4 separate regions of the Homo sapiens genome follow, and all the other regions are linked to region 1. Evidence: fine-mapped expression QTL. A gene starts in region 1. Each other region holds a variant in brackets. All regions are shown on one strand. Distances are between the middles of the regions.

Region 1 (5,145 bases):
TTTGGAAAGCAAACAAAATGAATAGCCGCTTGCTCCCTTGCTCAGCTCTTAGCGCACACGACGCCAGAGAGAAAGAGGAGAGAGGGAGAGATGAGGACGGCGGGGAGGGAGGGAGAGAGAGAGAGAGAGAAAGGGAAAGAGACAGGGAGGGAGGAAGAGGGAGGGAGAGAGGGAGAGAGAGACTGCTGCAGCCTGAACACAACAATTGTAGAAACCATGTTTATTTTTAGGCAGCTGTAAGGTATGCTAGCACAGTAATACCCCCCACCCCAGCTTCCCTCATATCTGAAGGAATATGTTTTAACGCAGAGATGCCCTTAACTACTGCTGCAGTAAAAACAAGCCTGTGTCGTCCAAGCTCCTCAGAAGTAAAGAAATAATAAACGACTTTCCTACTCCCTAAGATTCTAAAATAAGGATGGGGAGGTCTATTTAATACATTTAATAAGCTTACTTTCCCCTGATGCCCTAAAATCTTCCAGTTTCAAACACCATGCTTATAAAAGGGACCTGGTCAGTGGGTCATGTATTAGAACTCAGGTTCCTATTAAAAGCTGTCTGAAATCAAAGGCAGTGATTCTCTTAATATCATTTAAGAAAACTAAAATAGGATTCCACGTAAATCACCTCTACCCCTGTGCCCACTAAAAGGCCTACTGCCCTCCTATCTAAAGATGCTGCAGCAGTGGTGAAAGCAACAGCTGCTTGCTACAGCCCTCTCCTCCACCGTGCATTTCTAACGCAATAGCTCTTTAATTTAACCCTTCCATAAGGACACAACACCTACACCCCACCCTTTCATTTTTAACCCCTCACAGATCACGTCTTTTTCCACTAAACGTCTTTCCCACACGTCTGGGGCTGTCATTTTAAATTAACCCTTTGGCACCTGAAACCCCTCCCCCTCCCCCTGAGAGGTTGCCCTTTAACCCTTCCCTCCAACCCAACGTGTCTGTGAGCCTGGCTCCCAGAGACCCAGCGCCTAAGATACTCCTTTGCCGGTGGCCAACCTCCTTTACCCCTAACCCGGGGGTGCCTTAACCTCCTACAGCCCCCTTCCCCCGAGCATGCGCACAACTCGCTCCTCGGCCCGAATGCAGATTAACCCCTCCCGTACCGTGTCTCTCTCTGACTTCAGCTCCTCGATCTCCTTTTCCTTGGCCTGCAGCTGCTGCTGCTGCTGTTCGATGAGGTCCAATTGCAGCAGAAGGATCTGTTTGAGGCAGGCGGCCTGACTGGAGGCTCCCGAGCCGCCACCACCCCCGAGAGGGCTCTTCCTCATACTCTTCCATCTGCCCTCGCTGGCCGCCAGGGTCCCGGCGGTGGCGGTGGGCGCGAGGGGTGGCGGCCCGGGCAGAGGTAGTGGTGGGGGTCCCGCCGGGTCCGAGGCGGTGGCAGCGGGGGAGGCCGCCCCACCCTTGTCCCCAGCCCAGGGCGTAGGCTCTTTGGCCGCCGCCACGAGAGAGCCCGTCTGAATGGGCAGCACCGCCTGATACTTGGGCCGGGGGCTGCAGCCGGCTCCGGCTGCGGCAGGCTCCCCCCCAATGCCGGCTTGCTTGGTGGCCGGGGGCGGACAGGGCAAGGGCACCGAACCGCCCCAGCTCTCTTCCTGCTGCCCGGGGGCCGCCCCGGCCGGGAGTAACAAGCCCCGGCCCTTGCCGCCGCAGCCGGCCGGGGAAGGCGCGGGGCTCCCGCCCTGGGAGGAGGCCAGCGGGGGCCCCGGCTCCTTGAGCTTACGGTGCCGGGGGAGGAAGTGGGCTTCGGCCGCCCCAGGCTCGTCCTCGGGCCCGCCCAGCGCCGCAGCCCGCTCGTAGTCCAGTCGCTGCTCAGGATTGCCGCCGGCAGGGGCCGCGGCCGCCTTGAACACCGCGGATCTCATGGTCATAGTGGTCCGGAGCAGCGCCGGGCACCGAGGCGGAGGAGGGGGTGGGGAAGGGGCGAGGTGCGGGGGGTCGAGGACTGAGGGGGGGGAGGGGAGTTTGGCGGGCTCGCCTCAGCAGCGCGGCAGCAGGCCTCCGCTAGCGCGGCTCCTCCGGGGCCCGGGCGCCATCCCGCCGGCGTGCGGAGACGTGGAGGCCGCGGCTGAGGCCCGCCGCCGGCCCATGGGGGCCTCGCCGCCGCCTCTGCTGCCGCCGCCGCCGCCTTCGCCTCAGAGGCAGGAGCTCGCACCCAGCCGCCCCCGAGCTCATCCCCGGAGCTCGCTTCGGCCCCCCCTGGCCCGGCCGGGCCCGCCTCGTCTCCCCACCCCGCACCCCCCCTTCCCCGCCCCGGCCCCCCGCCCCGGAGCTCGCCTCAACCGCCCCGAGCCTCCATTTCCCCCCCCTCCTCCTCAGGAGGGGGTGGAGGGCTGGGTCCGCCCAAAGCCCTCCTACTCCGGGAGAGGGGGTCTGTCGCCTCTCCCGGGGGTCTCCGCGGCTCGGGGTCCCCCTCCCCCACAGTCACCCCCGGCGCCTCAGCGTTTCCCTTTAAAAAAACGGAGCCGCTCGTAGCCGCCACCGCCGCAGCCGCCGCCAACCGGAGGACGCATGCGCGGGGAGGGGAGCGGGCGGGAGTGCACCGGGAGCCGAGAGGAGGGAGGCGGGCCGCGCTATTGTGAAAGGGGCCGCCGCCGCCTCGAGGGGGGCAGGGAGGGGACCGCGGGGGCCGGGGGCCGGCGAGGGGAGGCCGGGGCTGAGGGGCGAGGACCGAGGAGCGCGCGGAGGAGCGGGGTGAAGGTGGGCTGCCGAGGGAGGGGCGAGCCGGGGGAGGGTCTGGAGGGGGAAGAAGGGCGAGGGCGGCCGCGGGAAGAAGGGGAAAGCGGAGGCTCCCCGGGAAAAAAGCGCGAGAGAATGGAGTTGAGAGGAAAGAAGGAGGATACAGGCGGCCAATGTGTGGCCTACGTGGGAGCGCCCCGAGCGCTCCACGTCCCCGGCCTGCGCCGGGCGGCCCCTTCCCCGGGCATCTTGGCAACGCGCCTGGCCCAAGCCGGAGGGGCCCCGCGGCCCCGCACGCCTCCTGGACCAGTCAGGATCCAGGCTCCTCTTTGAGCCCGCGGGTGTTTCATGGGGGTAGAAGTCTAACCCCTCCACCCCCTCTCCTCCCCAGCAGTCCCACGCGGGTATGGGAGAGAATGAAGTTCTTTGTCTCTAAGGGATTCAAACCAGAAACGGAGGGACCTCTGGTTCCCAGAGGGAGGAAAATCCATGATGTCTGCTGCCCAGGGAGCTATTGCCACCGCCTCCTTGGGATGAAGTATTGCCAGCTACCAACAGTTCCTTCCCAACGGCCATCTTCCAGCCTTCTTAAACGACTCCTAGCATCTTCGGGAGGCTCCTGAAGGACTGAAGCAAAGGAAATCTCTGAAGGGATTTAGTCCTTGAAAGGGAGTAGGGATACTTAGGGTGTTCTGTGTTGAGCGCTTCTTCCTATCTCTCCAGCTTCATGTATGTGTGTCTTTATGTCCAAGCAATTGAGCCAACAAGTCCTCAGAATTCCTTGTGAAAAAAACGTTTTTTTTTTTTGAGACGGATTCTCACTCTGTCGCCCAGGCTGGAGTGCAATGGTGAAATTCAGCTCACTGCAACCTCCGCCTCCGGGGTTCAAGCGATTCTCCTGCCTCAGCCTCCCGAGTAGCTGGGATTACAGTCACGCGCCACCACGCCCAGCTAATTTTGTATTTTTAGTAGAGACAGGATTTCTCCTTGGTCAGGCTGGTCTGGAACTCCCGACTTCAGGTGATCCGCCCGCCTCGGCCTCCCAAAGTGGTGGGATTACAGGTGTGAGCCACCGTGCCCAGCCCTGAAATAGTCTTAATTGCTTGTTTTTCTTTTTTGTCTGAGGTGTGCTTTTTAAAATCTCTATGGAGATGGAGAAGACTGACATTCTCTGGCCTGATGTGAAAACCTCTCATTAAAACTGTGTCTGTGCTTTGTGGGCTGAAAGCATGAAACACTGGAAATTTTAAACAAACGTATGTGAATGTGTTAAGAAGCCAAGAGTCCGGCCCTCTTTCACCAGACTGTATGGCCTCAGATCAGCAAGGGAAGTATTGAGCTTAGGGACACCAAGTAATGGAGTGAGCAGGGATGAGAGGGCACATAGAATGTGGTGATCTCTTTCCATGTCAAGGCTTGTGTGTTTGTGGCACTGGGGTCTTGCTGTGTCCCCAAGGCTAGAGTACAGTGGCACAATTATGGTTCACTGCAGCCTCAACCTCCAGGGCTCAAGTGATCCTCCCACCTCAGTCTCCTAAGTAGCTGGGACAACAGGCTTGGGCTGCCACACCTGGCTAACTTTTTATTTTTTTGTAGAGACGGGCCTTTGTAATACCAGCCTTTGTTGCCCAGGCTGGTATTGAACTCGCTCAAGCGATCCTCCCACCTGGGCGTCCCAAAGTGCTGGGATTATAGGAGTGAGCCACTGTGCCCAGCCTTCAGCGTCAAGACTTTCTGCACCATCTCTACGCTGACAGCTCCGTAATTTATATTTCTTTCTGGACTCATCCCCTAACTCCAGAATCATATATCCAACTGTCTAGTATACATACCCAGTTGGATGTCTAATAGGTATTTCTTTTTTTTGAGGTGGAGTCTTGCTCTGTTGCCCAGGCTGGAGTGCTGGAGTGCAGTGGCACGATCTCGGCTCACTGCGAGCTCCTCCCGGGTTCACGCCATTCTGCCTCAGCCTCCCCAGTAGCTGGGACTACAGGCGCCTGCCACTACGCCTGGCTAATTTTTTGTATTTTTTAGTAGAGACGTGGTTTCACTGTGTTAGTCAGGATGGTCTCATCTCCTGACCTCGTGATCTGCCCGCCTCGGCCTCCCAGAGTGCTGGGATTACAGGTGTGAACCACCGCGCCCGGCCTAGGTATTTCAAACTTACATCTAAAAATCAAGCTCCCGAATTCCTCCCACCCAAACACCCAAATACCACTTCTACAGTCTTACTCTTTTTTTTTTTTTTTTTTGAGACGGAGTCTTGCTCTGTTGCCCAGGCTGGAGTGCAGTGGCACAATCTCAGCCCACTGCAACCTCTCCACCTCCCGGGTTCAAGCGATTCTCCTGCCTCAGCCTCCAGAGTAGCTGGGATTACAGGCATGCACCACCATGCCCAGCTAATTTTTGTATTTTTAGTAGAGACGGGGTTTCACCATGTTGGTCAGGCTGG
Region 2 (5,145 bases), 30 kb after region 1:
GACTTCTGTCATCTCAGCTGGAATTTAATCACAACCCATTACACTGAAATAATGCCTTGGGTGCACTGCTGCCCCCATTCTAGACAAGAGCAGATTAACTTTGGTGAATGCCTTGCCCAAGGTCACAGGTAGTGACAAAGCTGACACTCAGATTCAGGCTTATTGGATCCCAAAGCCATCCTTCCACCTGGGCTCCCTCATTGGCCATTCAGAAACAACCCCCACTCTACTGAGAAATCGAAGGCAGCACCGCTAAACCCTCTGGCAAACTACAGGGGCGATTTGGTCAGTGCTCCTCCCACCACACCCAGGATGACTGTTCCCCTTCCCTCCTAGGTGCTGATGGTGCGCTTTGCTTCGTTGTTCAACGTGAAGGACCAGACAGTGATGTTCCTAAGCCGCACCACCTACAGCCTGCAGGAGCTTGGTGCCATGGGCATGGGAGACCTGCTCAGTGCCATGTTCGACTTCAGCGAGAAGCTCAACTCCCTGGCGCTTACCGAGGAGGAGCTGGGCCTCTTCACCGCGGTGGTGCTTGTCTCTGCAGGTAGGTCAGGCTCTCGCCTGACCCGGGGGAGGAGGCAGACGCAGTTCAATTCAACACACCTTTTATGGAGTACCTACTCTATGCCAGGCCCTGCACCGGGCACTGGGGATACAGACATGATTCAGACACAGTCTAGCTTGGGAAACAGACTCATGCCCGACTAATTATAAAACAGTGAGATAAGTGTCACAGTAGAAGCATGAACCAAGGAAGCACAGACAACTATTTCTGCCTGGGGGAGCTGGGGAAGGAGGTGACACTTGAGTTGGGGCCTCAAAGGACAAGTAAGATGTTGCCAGGCAGAGAAAGGGGGAAGGGCATCCCAGGCAGAGGGAACTACACAGCAAAAAGCAAGGGAGTCTGGCCATGTTTGGCCTGCTGAGGAAGGGAAGGTGGTCTTACGGGATGGGAGGTGACCAGCCCTGCTGAGCCCACGCTCCCAGCTTTCAGGCACCTCCTGCTCTTGGGGCAGAGGCCTGGGAGAAGGTATGGCACTCCTTCTCCTTCCCCATCGGCCTTCTGGGGGGCTTCAGGGAGAGGCTGCATTGCCTGCCAGGTCCTCGCAGACCTCCGGTTCCTCCTCAGAGGAGCTCGGGGAGTCCGCCTCACTGCTGTCGTCTTCCCCACAGACCGCTCGGGCATGGAGAATTCCGCTTCGGTGGAGCAGCTCCAGGAGACGCTGCTGCGGGCTCTTCGGGCTCTGGTGCTGAAGAACCGGCCCTTGGAGACTTCCCGCTTCACCAAGCTGCTGCTCAAGCTGCCGGACCTGCGGACCCTGAACAACATGCATTCCGAGAAGCTGCTGTCCTTCCGGGTGGACGCCCAGTGACCCGCCCGGCCGGCCTTCTGCCGCTGCCCCCTTGTACAGAATCGAACTCTGCACTTCTCTCTCCTTTACGAGACGAAAAGGAAAAGCAAACCAGAATCTTATTTATATTGTTATAAAATATTCCAAGATGAGCCTCTGGCCCCCTGAGCCTTCTTGTAAATACCTGCCTCCCTCCCCCATCACCGAACTTCCCCTCCTCCCCTATTTAAACCACTCTGTCTCCCCCACAACCCTCCCCTGGCCCTCTGATTTGTTCTGTTCCTGTCTCAAATCCAATAGTTCACAGCTGAGCTGGCTTCTGTGGTGTGTGCTCGTTTGGGGGGTGGGGTGGAAATACTGCCAAGGCTGGGGGGGGCCACCTCTCCATCTGGTCAGTTTGTGGGGTGGGTACTCTGCCAGCAGATGGGAGGATATAGGGAAACAGCACACAAGTCTAAGGGGGGTGCCCAAGGGGGTTATTTTCATCATATATTTATTACATAAATATATAGTAAAATAGACGAGCAACAATTACCATAAAAATATCTTTCTTTAAAATCCTGACCCAAAACACAACGGGGTGAAAAATCGCACATAACAGACATACTGATTGTCAACGTGGGGCAGGAGTAGGAGCCCCTCAAGTCACCCCTGCCGGTCCCACCCCTCCCTGGGGAAGAGACCTACCTCCTTCCCTGTTTCTGGCCACAACCCCCCTCCCCCCAGCCCAGCACCAGCTTCTCATACATTCAGTAGCGCCTCTGGGCAGTGTCCCCCTCCCCCCCGCCCAGGAGTTCCCAGGGCAGGAGTTACTGTCCTCCTTATGGACGGTCTCTCTCTCACAACGCCCTGCCCTCTCCCAGCCCTGCAGACCCGCCACCAGGAGAAGGGGTAGGGGCTCCTCCCCCACCCTCCCCAAGTCTGAGCAGGGAGGAGGCTGGATGAGGTATGTGTGTTATGAGTGATGGGAGGGGCAATACTGAGATGGAGAGGCGGGTGGTG[G/A]GGGCGGGGTAGTGGTCATGGCTCTGGCAACCCCTTGTCCTGGCCTGGCCCCCTCGTCCTATTCCCAGCAACCCGTCCTCCCACCGATACTGCACCTGCTGCTCCACCCTGCCTGCCCTAGTGCCCCGGGCCAATACTGGGGGAGGCATGCTGAGCACCCACATCAAGGCCATCCCCCTCATTAGCACCAATGGCCCCCAGGAGAGGGCCCTGTCCCCCACTTCCACAGCAGGGACTGGGACAGCTGCCGCTCTAGAGCAGGTGCGTGGCACTCCTGAGTCGCCCTGGCTCCTCCCCTACCATGTGTACTCACTCACACATTCACGCAGAGGAACGCACACATACACCCCACATCACCGAGGGGGAAGGGAGGGGTCCGGGGAGGATGGGATCACAGCTCATATGATTGGGGAGGGTGGGGGAGTCCCAAGTGCCTATAAGAGGCTAAGGCTCTTCAAGGCCTTTTCTCTGCCGTGTCCATGGCTGAGAATGGGGATGGAGGGGTTGGGGTGGGGATGGAGGGATGGGGAAGACAGCAGACAGGTCAGGAATTCCACTGGGCCCCCAGGCGTGGTAGGAAGGTACAAGAGGGCCTACCCATGGGACTGGAGTAATACAGGATTCAGTACTCCAGGAGAGAGAGAGAGGATAGAGACAAAGACAGCGCGGGCAGCCCGAGGCCCCAGCAGGGTGGGACAGGCACATGCACAGGTGACAGCGGGTGCTCCTCCAGGCCCTCCACCCCTGTTGGAACACCTGAACGATTGGGGAAGGACAGTGCCCTGACGGGCAGCATAGCATTGCCTTCCCATGTCCGTGTGTGCATGTCCGTGTGTGTGTGTGTGTGTGTGTGTGTGTGTGTGTGTGTGTAGGGGGCTGTGGCAGGCTGAGGGTCAGGGTGGGGTGGCAGGTTCCCCACTGCTTAAGACATTTTTGCCCCAATAGTGCAAAGCGCAGGAAGCCCTGGCACCCCTCCCCCCACCCCCTGCCCCAATCCCCATGGCTTCCGGGGGCATCTGTGTCCACCCATCCATCCCTGCCGACATGCAGCCCTGAGCCCAGCACCCTCTGGTCTGCTCTGTCCCACCCCACCTCCTGCTCCCATGGGAGGACCACCTCCTCTCTCCCTCTCTCCCCTGAGGAGTGGGCGGCAGCCACAGGGAGGGGGAGGAGGACAGCTCACCCAAGTGCAGACCAACAGAGCACCCTCACCAGGAGGGCGAGAGGGGCTCAAGCCAAAGTCCCTGAATTAGAGAAAAGAAGAGGGGAAGGGGTCCCGGGGCAGAGGGGCAGCTGGCCAAAAGAGCTTTAAAGAAAAAGGAGCACCGACCACCCCTCCCCTGGGGCCCCAACTAAGTGTCACTTATCTAAACACCCCCATTCTGGTACCTGCCCGCCCAGAGTTAGTGCAGTGAGTAGGAGCTGGGGAGGAGGGCAGAGGTTAGAGAGAGCCCAGAAGACAGATGGGAAACAGGGAAACAGAGTGCTAAAGGGGTGGAGGGTTCTGGGAGACGCTCACGCACAGCCCTCCTACCCCCGACCCAACCAATGCAGCAGCATCCGGTTTCTAGCTAATACTGCAGGATATAAGGAGGGTAGGAGTTGGAGCCACAGTTTTTTCCTGGGTGGGTGCCAAGGTGTGGAAGGAGGAGGTGGATGGGGAGAGGCCCCTAGGGCTGGGCACTTAAAGGGGAGCTGTGTGGGCAGCAGGGCAGGCTGGTGAGGGGCCAGCTGGCATCCAGCATGAGAGGTAGATGGAACTCAGCGGGCACGAGTGGCAGAAAGCAGAGGACATACTAGGGTTGGGGGGTGCCAAAGGGGCACAGAGGGCGGGGTATGGCAAGGGGGGTGGCCAGGACCCTGTTGTGTTAACTCACAGCTCTGATCGGCAGCCCTACCCTTGGGGCTCTGGTGTGGGGGCATTTCTCTCTGATGTGGGGGAAGAAGGGGCAGCTCGCAAAGTGCATGGGGTGGTAAAGGGGGGGTCCTCCCCTCTGGTCAGCCTCAGTTAATAACTTAATATCATCTCTCTCTATCGCTCGCTCTCTCTTTTTTGTATTTTTCTCTCTGTCTAGTTTTTCTTCATTTGTCTTCTCCCCTTGCTTGGTTTCCAAAGTGCAGTTAGAATGACTATAAATTTTAACCTCCAGAGGAGGAGCCAAGCCAAGCCGTTCTTTGCACCCAGGCATCTGGGGAAGTAGAGAGGCCCTCAGCCTGGAGGGGAGACCTAGGCCAAGGAACTGGGTGGGGGCTCTCTCTCATGTGTGTGTAGGGGGTGAGTTGAGGGCATCTTCCCCCAGCCCACATTCCTCCTTCCCCTACGGTCAAGGTGGCTTGTCCCTTCTCAATCCTCCCGCCCTTCCCCTACCTTCTGAGAGGATGGGGTCCTGGGAACTGCAGGACACAGCTCCCCCAGCCTCCCACACTGTCCTTTCCATAGCAAGTTCAGTTGTTTGCCCTGTCCCAGGGCTGGAGGTCTGAGGAGGGACCTGGGCAGTGCGGGTGTGTGTGTGGGAGCTGAATCTATCCAAGGACGAGAGGAAGGAGAGAAGGGGTGTGGGGGGGTCTCCCTCAGCCCCCAGCTCTGCCCCTTCTCTCCAGGCTCCTCCCCACCAGCTCCGCACACCCTCTGGCCGCCTGAGGCTTTAGACTTCCTGATCCTCAAAGACCTCGAGGAAGAGTGGGGGGAAGAGTTCGGTGGGGCACTCGACTTTCATGTGGAGGAAGCGGCTGGCGTGGCAGGCCCCGATCATGCGGAGGTCAGTCACCTTCATCAGCAGCTTGGGCC
Region 3 (5,145 bases), 970 kb before region 1:
TGCAGTCCCCTGCTCATGGAAGGAAGCATGCAGGTGAATGGGTGCAGGAGCCAGAGTGAGTGCTTTTGGGTGCTGGCAGGAGCAAACTCTGTGCGGGCCCCACAGCAGCATCTAGGTGGAGGTGCCTGCAACTCCCATAGCCCCAGAAGTCATGTTACAGTGCTCTTTTAACTCTGCCTTCCATGGATGGCTTAAGTGTCAACAGCTCAGTGAGCCCTCTGCCTTTTTGCATGAGGCAGCTGCCCTCCAACAGCAAGAGCAGAAGGCCAGTGTGACAGCCTTTTGTATCTGCTCTCCTGGCTCCCAAGCTCTTGTCGGGTGTCCAGGAAAGGTGAGGTCACATGAACCAATCAAAGGATGGTAAATGTGGGGGATTTTGTTGCTGATGAAAGTGGCTCTTAGCAGGAAGGGAGCTGAAAAAGGATGGGGTGGGTAGGTAATCTTCCTCAAAGTTAGGCTGTATCCAGCCGGATTCTTCTCCAAGGTTACACCATCAAGCTGTCCCTCTGCAGTCAAGCTGCTTCTCTCTGATGTCCGGCTGTAGTCCCCAACATCCAGCTGCTTCTTGCCTCTGCCAGCTCAGTCTGAGATCTTCACAGGCACAGGATGGGACAGGATGGGGCCATGAGTGGTTTAGAAAAAGGCAACTTTCAAGCAGGAAAACAGGGATATAAGTTGTCACTTTGGGCCATGGTTTAAGGCTTTTCAGCTTGAAGGTGGGGTTTTGTCAGAGACCTATCCTTTTCTGCCTAGAATTTCTCTGTCCCCTGGCCCTATCAGAACTTTGTTCCATAGAAGGAATTTCGGATAAGACTTTTGGAAAGCTTAGCCTAGCCATGGATTTGTACCATCAAATACCTATGAGTTGGGTGAATTCCTCTCCTCTTGAGGTTCCAAGATAAACTTGGGGCTCCTGGAACTGTTAGAAAGTGACATGCTTTACTTACCACAGGTCAGGAACCCTGTACAGGGACTGTGTAGATAAGGTATGAGGCCAGTTCTCCCAAGGGGCTTTTATTGGCTCCATAAGTCAAGTTTGATTCCTCAAAGAAGAGCACACCATTCAAGTAAAAGCCTTGGTAAAATGACCAATTTATCGTGTCCTGTTACAAATGAAAACAGATTCTTATTGCACTTACGCAAATAACTGTATTGCCATAAGTTAAGAATACTCACAGATAGTTTCCAATTCTAGGGAAAATCAGGTAGAGAGAAACAAATATGCTCCAAATATTTTTCACAGGAGTATACTAACTTGTTAAAAGCTGACAACAGCTCAAAAGAAAAGTTTCCTTGACTGAAAAAAACAAAATAAAGGGTCAGCAATGTTTTAAGCAAAAAGTCAAAAAGATTACTTCAGTCTTCTGTTAGTTCAGTTCATGCAGTTAATTCCTGTTCTGCTTGCTATTCATGAACATTTCAGGTCTCCATGAGTCCTGAAAGCTTTTCCTTCATTGTGATGTCACAATCTCCAGAGTTATTAGAAACCTGCATTCAAGAATACCTGTTAGAGTTTTATAGCTGATTATAAAACCATCTTCTAAAGAGGACTAAAACAAGACAAAAATTGTCCATGGGTGACAAAAAGTTTTAGGTCAGCCATAGGCGAAGATACAATTGACAAGAAAATTTGTTACCACCATGGCACACAATAATTTAATATAACAATCATAATTATTACTGATAATGTACACCAGGTCATATCAGAATTATAGGAGTTTCCCATAATTTTGGTGCACATACCAATAACAATTTTATACAAATACAGCCCAAATAAAACCAAACACCATTTTATATTTGACAATGCTTCCTGTATAATTTTTATACCAAATAAGTCAAATTATTTCATTTTTGGACTTGAGGGAAACTAATATCTTAAAGGATTAATTAGGTCAGAAAAATACACAACTTGTAATTTGATTTTGGAAAGTTTGTCAAATATCAAAGGTTTAAAACACTTGATATGACAGGTCATCATAAAATAAGTCAATTTTTCAAACAATAAGCCCAAATAAAACAGCATAAAGCCAATTAAATTTGTTTTTCAAAATTTTTTAAACAATCTATAACATTTTAATCTTGACCATAAGATACAACTTTCATAAGCCTTTTATAACCTTTATAACCTTTATTAAGGGGTCAGTTAACACTTCAAGAAAACCTTGTTAATCTGACACAGGGGCCCATATGCTGGTATT[G/A]CATCAGTGTGCCTTTGACATCAATTATTAACTTGTATAGAGACTGAACTTATTTTATCTCTCAAAATCAGCCCTTATAATCTCACATGCCTACCTCTTCTGTGATTGTTCCTGAGTCTTGAAGAGTTGAATAGCTTTGATTTATGGCCTTATGTCTCAGAAATGCAGCTTATTTTGATAGGCATCTTCTACCAGGCCTGAAGATGAGGTTTTAATTGCTGTCAGTGTTTAAGATTTAGCAGATCTTGGTCTCCTTTTTAGATCCAGGAGTTAAAGGCCGGTAACTCAATGTCACAGGTACTTTCAAAGTGCACACAGAAATATACATGGATGTAATAACGTTAATTTTTTAAAAAAATTGTCTCAGTTTCTTTTTCCTAAGCAAACCAAAAATTAATAATAATGGCATAGGAATTGTTTCAATAAGCCATAAAATCTGTTAGGTCAATTACCAAAAGGCAAAAGAAAAGACCTTCTACACTGCACAGAGTATTACTTTGGAAGAAAACATTTCCTTTAGACTTTTAGAAAACATTGTTAGCATCAGGCCACAACAAACAGAACTTAAGGAAAATAACTTATATGAGCTGAAAACAAGTTGAAGGGGAGAGAAAACAGCAAGTAAATAGTTGAACTTTGGGTTAAAAAATTAAAATCTCTTATAATTTATTAAGAGTAAATCAATCCCTTAAGAAAATTTCATCGCTGTAACTAATTATTTAGTCTATAAGTGTTTTTTTTAGCATGAAGCCCAATCTTCAGGAAGACCATTATAATTTCCCTTTAATTATAGACAACTCAATCATATAAAAGTTTTTTGGTATTTTTTTAAAATAAATCCTCTTATGACTTATAGAGACTGTTCATGATATGCTTGGACTATCTAGTTTGTTTTGAACATCCATCTTTCTTAAACAATCAGTCATTTTATTTTAGGTCTAAATTTACCATACAAGATTCTTTCTCATATGAAATTATTTCTCTTTAAGCTTTCTTACCAGCACAGGCTGAACAGACTTTGAGAGGAAAATAGTTTATAGTTTACCTTTGAAACAAAGATTATAATATTTCATTCCCAAAGTAAATATTACTGCCTGTGGACTAGACCACTAAAAGCCACAAGATTAGAAGTTATGGTAATCTGACTAAATTCAAGATGTGGCTATTTTTATTAAACCAGTATCAATGTCTTATTTATTAAAGATTACACAAGCAAAGATCATTCTATCACAGTTTTGTAACCCCATGCCAAATTTTGACACCTTATAGTATTTGACAGGGATAAACATGAAATTGCTTGATTAATAAATGCAAACAAAATGCATGCTGGCAATTCTTAAGACATGTCTAATATTACTTTACCAATCATTTTAAAAGTAGCTTATTTATTAAAGATTTTACTTAAGTTACATAAACTTGAGAAAGCATTCAACTAGTCTTTTCTTTTTTCCTAATAAGTATTTGATTTAAGTGCTTTTTTTCTTAAGCCAATTAATTAGAGCCCTTTTATATATTTTCAGTAGTGAGACATTGTGTACACAACACATAAATACATAGACCTAGTAGGCATGTTGATAGAAGTACATCTTATAGATTCATAAGAAGATTTTTCCACTATCTTAGACTTTCAAATTCTCAATAACCTGTTTTAATCCCCTAGGAAGTTGTCAGCTAAATGGCTTTAAGTTTGCATATTAAAGGAAACAACTCAGGCAAAAATCAAAGAGCAAAATTTATGTCTTAAGGTACAGAGAGAAAAAGTCTGGTGGTGCTAGAGGGAAATTAAAATGGACTTCATTGCCAAATAAACATAAAATTATAAAAATTATAAAGGCCTTTTAAATACACACACACACACACACACACACACACACACACACACATCCTATAGCTTTTACTTCAGAACTTTAGCCATGAGACAAATACAAATTCACCAGCTTGCAAGCAAAAAAACTGTTGTATCCAAACAGTGGTTTTGATCTTAATAGAAAAATAACAGCAGATTTAAAGCAGGCAGAAAAGAAAATAGAGAAAAAAGAGAACTTAGGAACTCTGTAGTTTGTAGGTCCACCTTAAGGCTCTTCTTTTCTTTCTTTCTTTCTTTCTTTCTTTCTTTCTTTCTTTCTTTCTTTCTTTCTTTCTTGCTTGCTTGCTTTCTTTCTTTCTCTTTCTTGCTTTCTTGCTTTCTTTCCTTCTTTTCTTTCTCTTCTAAAAAAAAATGAAATATACATGCAGGAGAACGTGCAGGTTTGTTACATAGGTATATGTGTGCCTTGGTGGTTTGCTGCACCTATTGACCCATCCTCTAAGTTCCCTCCTCTCATTCCCCACCCCCCAACAGCCCCTGATATGTGTTGCTCTCCTCTCTGTGTCCATGTGTTCTCAAAGTTCAACTCCCATATGTGAGTGAGAACATGTTGTATTTGGTATTCTGTTTCTGTGTTAGTTTGCTGAGGATGATGGTTTCCAGCTTCATCCATGTCCCTACAAAGGACATGAACTCACTCCGTTTTATGGCTGCATCGTATTCCATGGTGTATATGTACCACATTTTCTTTATCAAGTCTATAATTGATGGGCGTTTGGGTTAGTTCCATGTCTTTGCTCTTGTAAATAGTGCTGCAATAAACATACATGTGCCTGTGTCTTTACAGTAGAATGATTTGTATTCCTTTGGGTATATAACAAGTAATGGGATTGCTGGATCAAATGGTATTTCTGATTTTAGATCCTTGAGGAATCACCATACTGTCTTCCACAATGGTTGAACTAATTTACATGGGCCCTTTCTTTCTTAATGTAAATATGCACAAAGACCATATTACTTCCATTTTACTTAAACTCTGGCAAGTACAGGTGCCATAAAACCTATGGAGTGCTTGAAAGGGAATCATTCTCTTTGCTTTCTCCTCATTCTTAGATTATTTGTTTCCCAGTTTTCTTCTTA
Region 4 (5,145 bases), 75 kb before region 1:
ACAGGCGTGAGCCACCCTGCCCAGCCTTTTTTTTTTTTTTGAGATGGAGTTTTGCTCTTGTTACCCAGGCTGGAGTGCAATGGCACGCTCTCAGCTCACCACAACCTCTGCCTCCCAGGTTCAAGCGATTCTCCTGCCTCAGCCTCCCGAGTAGCTGGGATTACAGGCATGTGCCACCACGCCCAGCTAATTTTGTATTTTTAGTGGAGACAGTTTCTCCATGCTGGTCAGCTGGTCTCAAACTTCCGACCTCAGGTGATCCACCCACCTCGGCCTCCCAAATGCTGGGATTACAGGCATGAGCCACCGCACCTGGCCTATTTTTTTATTTTTTTGTAGAGACAAGGTCTCCCTATGTTGCCTGAGCTGGTCTCAAACTCCTGGACTCAAGGGATTCTCCTGCCTCAACCTCCCAAAGTGCTGGGATTACAGGCGCGACACACCATGCCCAGCTACATTTTTTATTTTTTGTAGAGATAGGGGTCTCACTATGTTGGCCAGGCTGGTCTTGAACTCCTGGGCTTAAGAGATCCTCCTGTGTCCAGAACTGGTTCCTTCCAGTGGGTTCTTAGTCTTGCTGACTTCAAGAATGAAGCTTCAAGAATGATGCCACAGACCCTCACGGTGAGTGTTAGCTCTTAAAGATGGTGTGTCCGGAGTTTGTTCCTTCAGGTGTTCAGATGTGTCCAGTTTCTTCCTTCTGGTGGGTTCGTCCTCTCCCTGACTTCAGGAATGAAGCCACAGACCTTCAGCAGTGAGTGTTACAGCTCTTAAAGGTGGCGCTTCTGGAGTTGTTTGTTCCTCCCAGTGGGTTCGTAGTCTCGCTGGCTTCAAGAGTGAAGCTGCAGACCTTTGTGGTAAGTGCTACAGCTCATATAGTGCGGACCAAAAGAGTGAGCAGCAGCAAGATTTATTGCAAAGAGCAAAAGAACAAAGCTCCCACAGCGTGGAAGGGGACCCCAGTGGGTTGCCGCTACTGGCTCGGGTGGCCTGGCCCCACCCACATCCTGCTGATTGGTCCATTTTACAGAGCGCTGATTGGTCCATTTTACAGAATGCTGATTAGTCCGTTTTACAGAGTGCTGATTGGTTCGTTTTTACAGAGTGCTGATTGGTGCATTTACAAACCTTTAGCTAGACACAGAGCACTGATTGCTGCATTTACAAACCTTTAGCTAGACACAGAGCACTGATTGGTGCATTTACAAACCTTTAGCTAGACACACAGCGCTGATTGGTGCTTTTACAATCCTTTAGCTAGACAGAAAAGTTCTCCAAGTCCCCTACCTGATTAGCTAGACACAGAGCACTGATTGGTGCATTTACAATCCTTTAGCTAGACAGAAAACTTCTCCAAGTCCCCACCTGACCCAGAAGCCCAGCCAGCTTCACCTCTCACTCCTACTTCAGGCCCCCAAAGTGCTGGGATTAGAGGTGTGAGCCAACATACCCAGCCTGTGTCTGGCTTCCTTTATTCAACATTAAGTCTGTGAGATTCATTCACGTGGGTATTAATAATTTGTTCTTTTTTCTTGCTATATAGTATTCCACCATAAGAATATGCCCCAATGCATTTGTCCATTCATGTGTTGAAAGACACTGGGTTTTTTTCCTTCCTTCCTTCCTTCCTTCTTTCCTTCCTCCCTCCCTCTCTCCCTCCCTCTGTCCCTCCCTCCCTCCTTCCCTTGCTCTCCTTTCTTTTTTTTTTTTTTTTTAAACAGGGTCTCACTCTGTTGCTCAGGCTATAGTACAGTGGTGCTATCGCAGCTCACTGCAGCCTCGTTAATTTTTTATTTTTTGTAGAGACAGGGTCTCACTATGTTGCCCAAGCTGGTCTTGAACTCCTGGGCTCAAGCGATCCTCCTGCCTCAGCCTCCCGAAGTGCTAGGATTATGGGCTTGAGCCACCATGCCCAGCGTGATTGGTGTTTCTGAAAGAACACCCTGGCTGCCATGTGGAAATCAAACTGGTGGCAGGTAGGGGTGGATCAAAGAGAGGAAGCTGACAGACCAGGTAGGAGGCTGCAGTAGTCATGCAGGGAAGCTATGAAGGTGGTTTGGACTAGTATGGTCATAGGGGAGTCATACAGAAGTGGATCACTCAGAAAATGCTCTGGAATTGTAGCCGATGGGACTGGCTGAGATGAATGAAGGGTGGGAGAAAGAGGCACCAATGGTGAGTCCTGTATTTTTGCCTTGAAAACTTGGGTAGGTGGCTGGGCAGTGGCTCACAGCTGTAATCCCAGCACTTTGGAAGACTGAGGTGGGTGGATCACTTGAGGTCAGGAGTTTGAGACCAACCTGACCAACATGGTGAAACCCCATCTCTACTAAAAATACAAAAATTAGCCGGGTGTGGTGGCCTCTGCCTATAATCCCAGCTACTCAGGAGGCTGAGGCAGGAGGATCACTTGAACCTGGGAGGCAGAGGTTGCAGTGAGCCAAGATTACGCCACTGCACTCCAGCTTGGGCAACAGAGAGAGAAAACCTGGGTGGATGAGAGGATCATTTTTCTGAGATGCAGAAGACTGAGGCAGAAACAGATGTGAATGGGGATTATCAAGGGCCCAGGTATAGCTATTTGAGTGTATGATGTCTCCTGGAACTCAGGCTATCATTTAAGCCTAACGCTAGGCTCTCTGCACCCTATAATCTTAGTAGGATTGGGCCAGGCGCAGTGGCTCAAGCCTGTAATCCCAGCACTTTGGGAGGCCGAGGTGGGCAGATCACGAGGTCAGGAGATCCAGACCATCCTGGCTAACACAGTGAAACCTCATCTCTACTAAAAATATTAAAAAAAAAA[T/AAT]TAGCCCGGCATGGTGGTGGGCACCTGTAGTCCCAGCTACTTGGGAGGCTGAGGCAGGAGAATGGCATGAACCTGGGAGGCAGAGCTTGCAGTGAGCAGACATCACGCCACTGCACTCCAGCCTGGGCAACAGAGCAAGACTCCGTCTCAAAAAAAACAAAACAAAACAAAACTTAGTAGAACTGGTAAATATTGGTTGTGTGAACAGTACATGCTGTCTTCAGGGGACAGACCTGGGTTAGGGGACCAGTGCCCTCACTAGTAATTATTCTGGGACTGCTGTGCCTCAATCTTCTACCTTAGCATTAGAATTAAATGTGATCTCATATTTATGCCACCTGGAACATGTATGAACGAAAACATCCCATCCCCTCTTCTGAGTTCCAGGCATTATGTGACATGTCTTGTGAGGTTGGCATCTTTTCCTCTCATCCACATTTTCTTTTTTGGCAGAGTCTTGCTCTGTTGCCCAGGCTGGAGAGCCACTGCGCCTTGCAACCTCCGCCTCCTGAGTTCAAGCTACTCTCCTGACTCAGCCTCCCAAGTAGCTGGGATTACAGGCATGCACCACCACACCTGGCTAATTTTTGTATTTTTAGTAGAGACAGGGTTTCACCATGTTGGCCAGGCTGGTCTCGAACTCCCGCCCTCAGGTGATCTGCCCGCCTCGGCCTCCCAAAGTGCTGGGATTACAAGCATGAGCCACTGTACCCCGCCACCCACATTTTCAAAGTCACTCCAGAACAGCCCTGCTCCTGACAGCACTGGGCGGCCATCCCCTCTCCCCTCCCTCAGCACTTCCACAGCCTCAAAGAAAACAGAATGGAGAACAACAGGCAGGTTGATTCATAGACTTTATCGGCTTCTTCTCCACCCAGCGGTTTCTGCAATGACAACCGCGCCTGTACAATACACATGGTTCACTCTGTTAAAGCTGCAGGGCAACGGGAGGGGGCTGGGGGTCCCTGGGCAGGCATCAAGGCTAGGGGTAAGCAGCAGCCAAGACTGGGCCAGTGGGTCCCAGTGTCCGACCCAGAGGGTGGTGGCAGCTGGAGTTCCAAGGCTGTTGGAAGGGGTCAGGAGGAAGGCTGGGAAGCCAGGGGCTGCAGGGAGAGGAGAGTGCATCAGCAGTAGCAGGGAGGGGGCAGGGAGCAGAAGGGGGCCCATGGGACACTGTCAGGGCAAGAGGGCATGGGACACAGCACCTCCTATGTCCATAGAGGATTTTTGCTGCAGGAACAAGACAGATCACTGTATAAAAGGGTCTGTACAACATTACCTATGATACAATGTTCACATATGATACAAGGCTCTTTCCCTCTTTGAGTTTTAAAAAATAAATGTACAATTCCAGAGCTTTGGGTAAAAAATATATACACCCTCATAGCAGGAGCAGCAGCTGCTTTTGCTACGGCTGTTGCTGTCTCTTCAAAAGGGAAAGAGGTGGTGCCAGAAAGAAGGGTGAGTCTGTGCCAGGAAACCTCACCCAGTAGCTGCCAGGAGCCCCTGCACCCCTCAGGCCTTGAGGCTGGTGATGGGAGAGGGAGGGGAGTAAAGGTAATAAAGGCCTTGCCAGAGTCCAGTGGCGCCTTTACAGTCTCTGCCATCCCCCTCCCCCACTTTGGGGCTGCCTGCCCCAGGTATAGGGATCCACCCCACCCCAGCTCTATGGGGAGGACAAAGGGAGAGTCAAAGAGAGAGGGACAGAGACCATGTTGTTGGTGTCAGACACATGAGCCAGAAGGGGGATGTCAACTCCCTCCTTAGCAGTTAGATATCCCAAAAAGCAGGAGTGTGGGCAGCAGACAACCCTAGCTCCTGATACTGCTCTACCCGAGCCCACTGCAAGGCAGGGGGAGGGTCCTCTAGGCAGCTGAGGCCTGTGTTTCCCTGAGCATCTTTTACCCTCTCATCAGAGCCCATCCCTGGACCTTCCAGAGGCCTGAGTGGGGGACTTGCAAGGGCTGATGGGTAACCCCTCCCACCTGCTGCTACTCCCTGCCCCAAAAAGCAGCTTGGCTCACAAGCCTGGGCATGCAGGGCAGCACGAGGAGCTGAGCAGGGAGTGTGGGGGTGGAGAAAGCACCCCGCACCATCCAGGGGCAGAGTAGACAAGGGTAGCACCAAACAGAAGGACCCCTCCCCAGCACACACAACATCCACCCTCAATTACCAGATGCACTCCTGCTCCCTAAAAGAAGACACACACACACACACACACACACACACACACACACACACACACACACACACACACACGGCAACATAATATTCCTGGGGGTCCCAGCCCTGACCAGGAAGAAGCTGGACAGGTGGTGGAGAAGAAGGCTGCCAATCCCTCC

Alleles and levels. Positions count from the first base shown, and alleles are read on the strand shown. Sizes are in standard deviations (SD) of each study's normalised expression. Not every link is listed here.
For the expression in neutrophils of the gene that starts at base 2,527 in region 1, A is the low allele of the variant in region 3 and G is the other (large effect, 1.0 SD a copy in BLUEPRINT).

Evidence for each region. PIP is the estimated chance that this variant, and not a neighbour inherited with it, causes the effect.
Region 2: its variant is the best candidate, but not a certain one, in a credible set for the expression of MSL1 in monocytes (TOPMed, PIP 0.57).
Region 3: its variant is the best candidate, but not a certain one, in a credible set for the expression of MSL1 in neutrophils (BLUEPRINT, PIP 0.81).
Region 4: its variant is the best candidate, but not a certain one, in a credible set for the expression of MSL1 in whole blood (INTERVAL, PIP 0.51).

What each region holds. Positions count from the first base shown.
Region 1 is chr17:40,119,353-40,124,497 of GRCh38, reverse strand. It overlaps MSL1 (MSL complex subunit 1), which reads right to left and starts at 2,527. Exons shown (of 9, transcript NM_001365919.1): 1 at 1,118-2,527. The coding sequence starts at 1,885. LOC124904001 (a long non-coding RNA gene) reads left to right here and starts at 2,658. Exons shown (of 2, transcript XR_007065752.1): 1 at 2,658-2,714; 2 at 3,085-3,969. RefSeq lists an enhancer at 1,048-1,686 and silencers at 1,387-1,836, 1,887-1,936, 2,037-2,176, 2,237-2,446, 2,487-2,686 and 1 more.
Region 2 is chr17:40,089,314-40,094,458 of GRCh38, reverse strand. It overlaps THRA (thyroid hormone receptor alpha), which reads right to left. Exons shown (of 9, transcript NM_199334.5): 9 at 1,457-5,145. The coding sequence ends at 5,003. NR1D1 (nuclear receptor subfamily 1 group D member 1) reads left to right here. Exons shown (of 8, transcript NM_021724.5): 7 at 337-547; 8 at 1,177-1,666. The coding sequence ends at 1,376. Among named protein-coding and RNA genes, the nearest start is that of NR1D1, 8.7 kb to the left of the region's middle. RefSeq lists enhancers at 2,617-3,243, 3,244-3,869. The variant G/A (reference allele first, on the strand shown) is at 2,358.
Region 3 is chr17:41,089,261-41,094,405 of GRCh38, reverse strand. No RefSeq gene overlaps it. Among named protein-coding and RNA genes, the nearest start is that of KRTAP4-8, 6.3 kb to the left of the region's middle. The variant G/A (reference allele first, on the strand shown) is at 2,199.
Region 4 is chr17:40,194,150-40,199,294 of GRCh38, reverse strand. It overlaps RAPGEFL1 (Rap guanine nucleotide exchange factor like 1), which reads right to left. Exons shown (of 15, transcript NM_016339.6): 15 at 3,645-5,145. Among named protein-coding and RNA genes, the nearest start is that of MIR6867, 3.1 kb to the right of the region's middle. RefSeq lists enhancers at 4,678-4,727, 4,352-4,852. The variant T/AAT (reference allele first, on the strand shown) is at 2,804.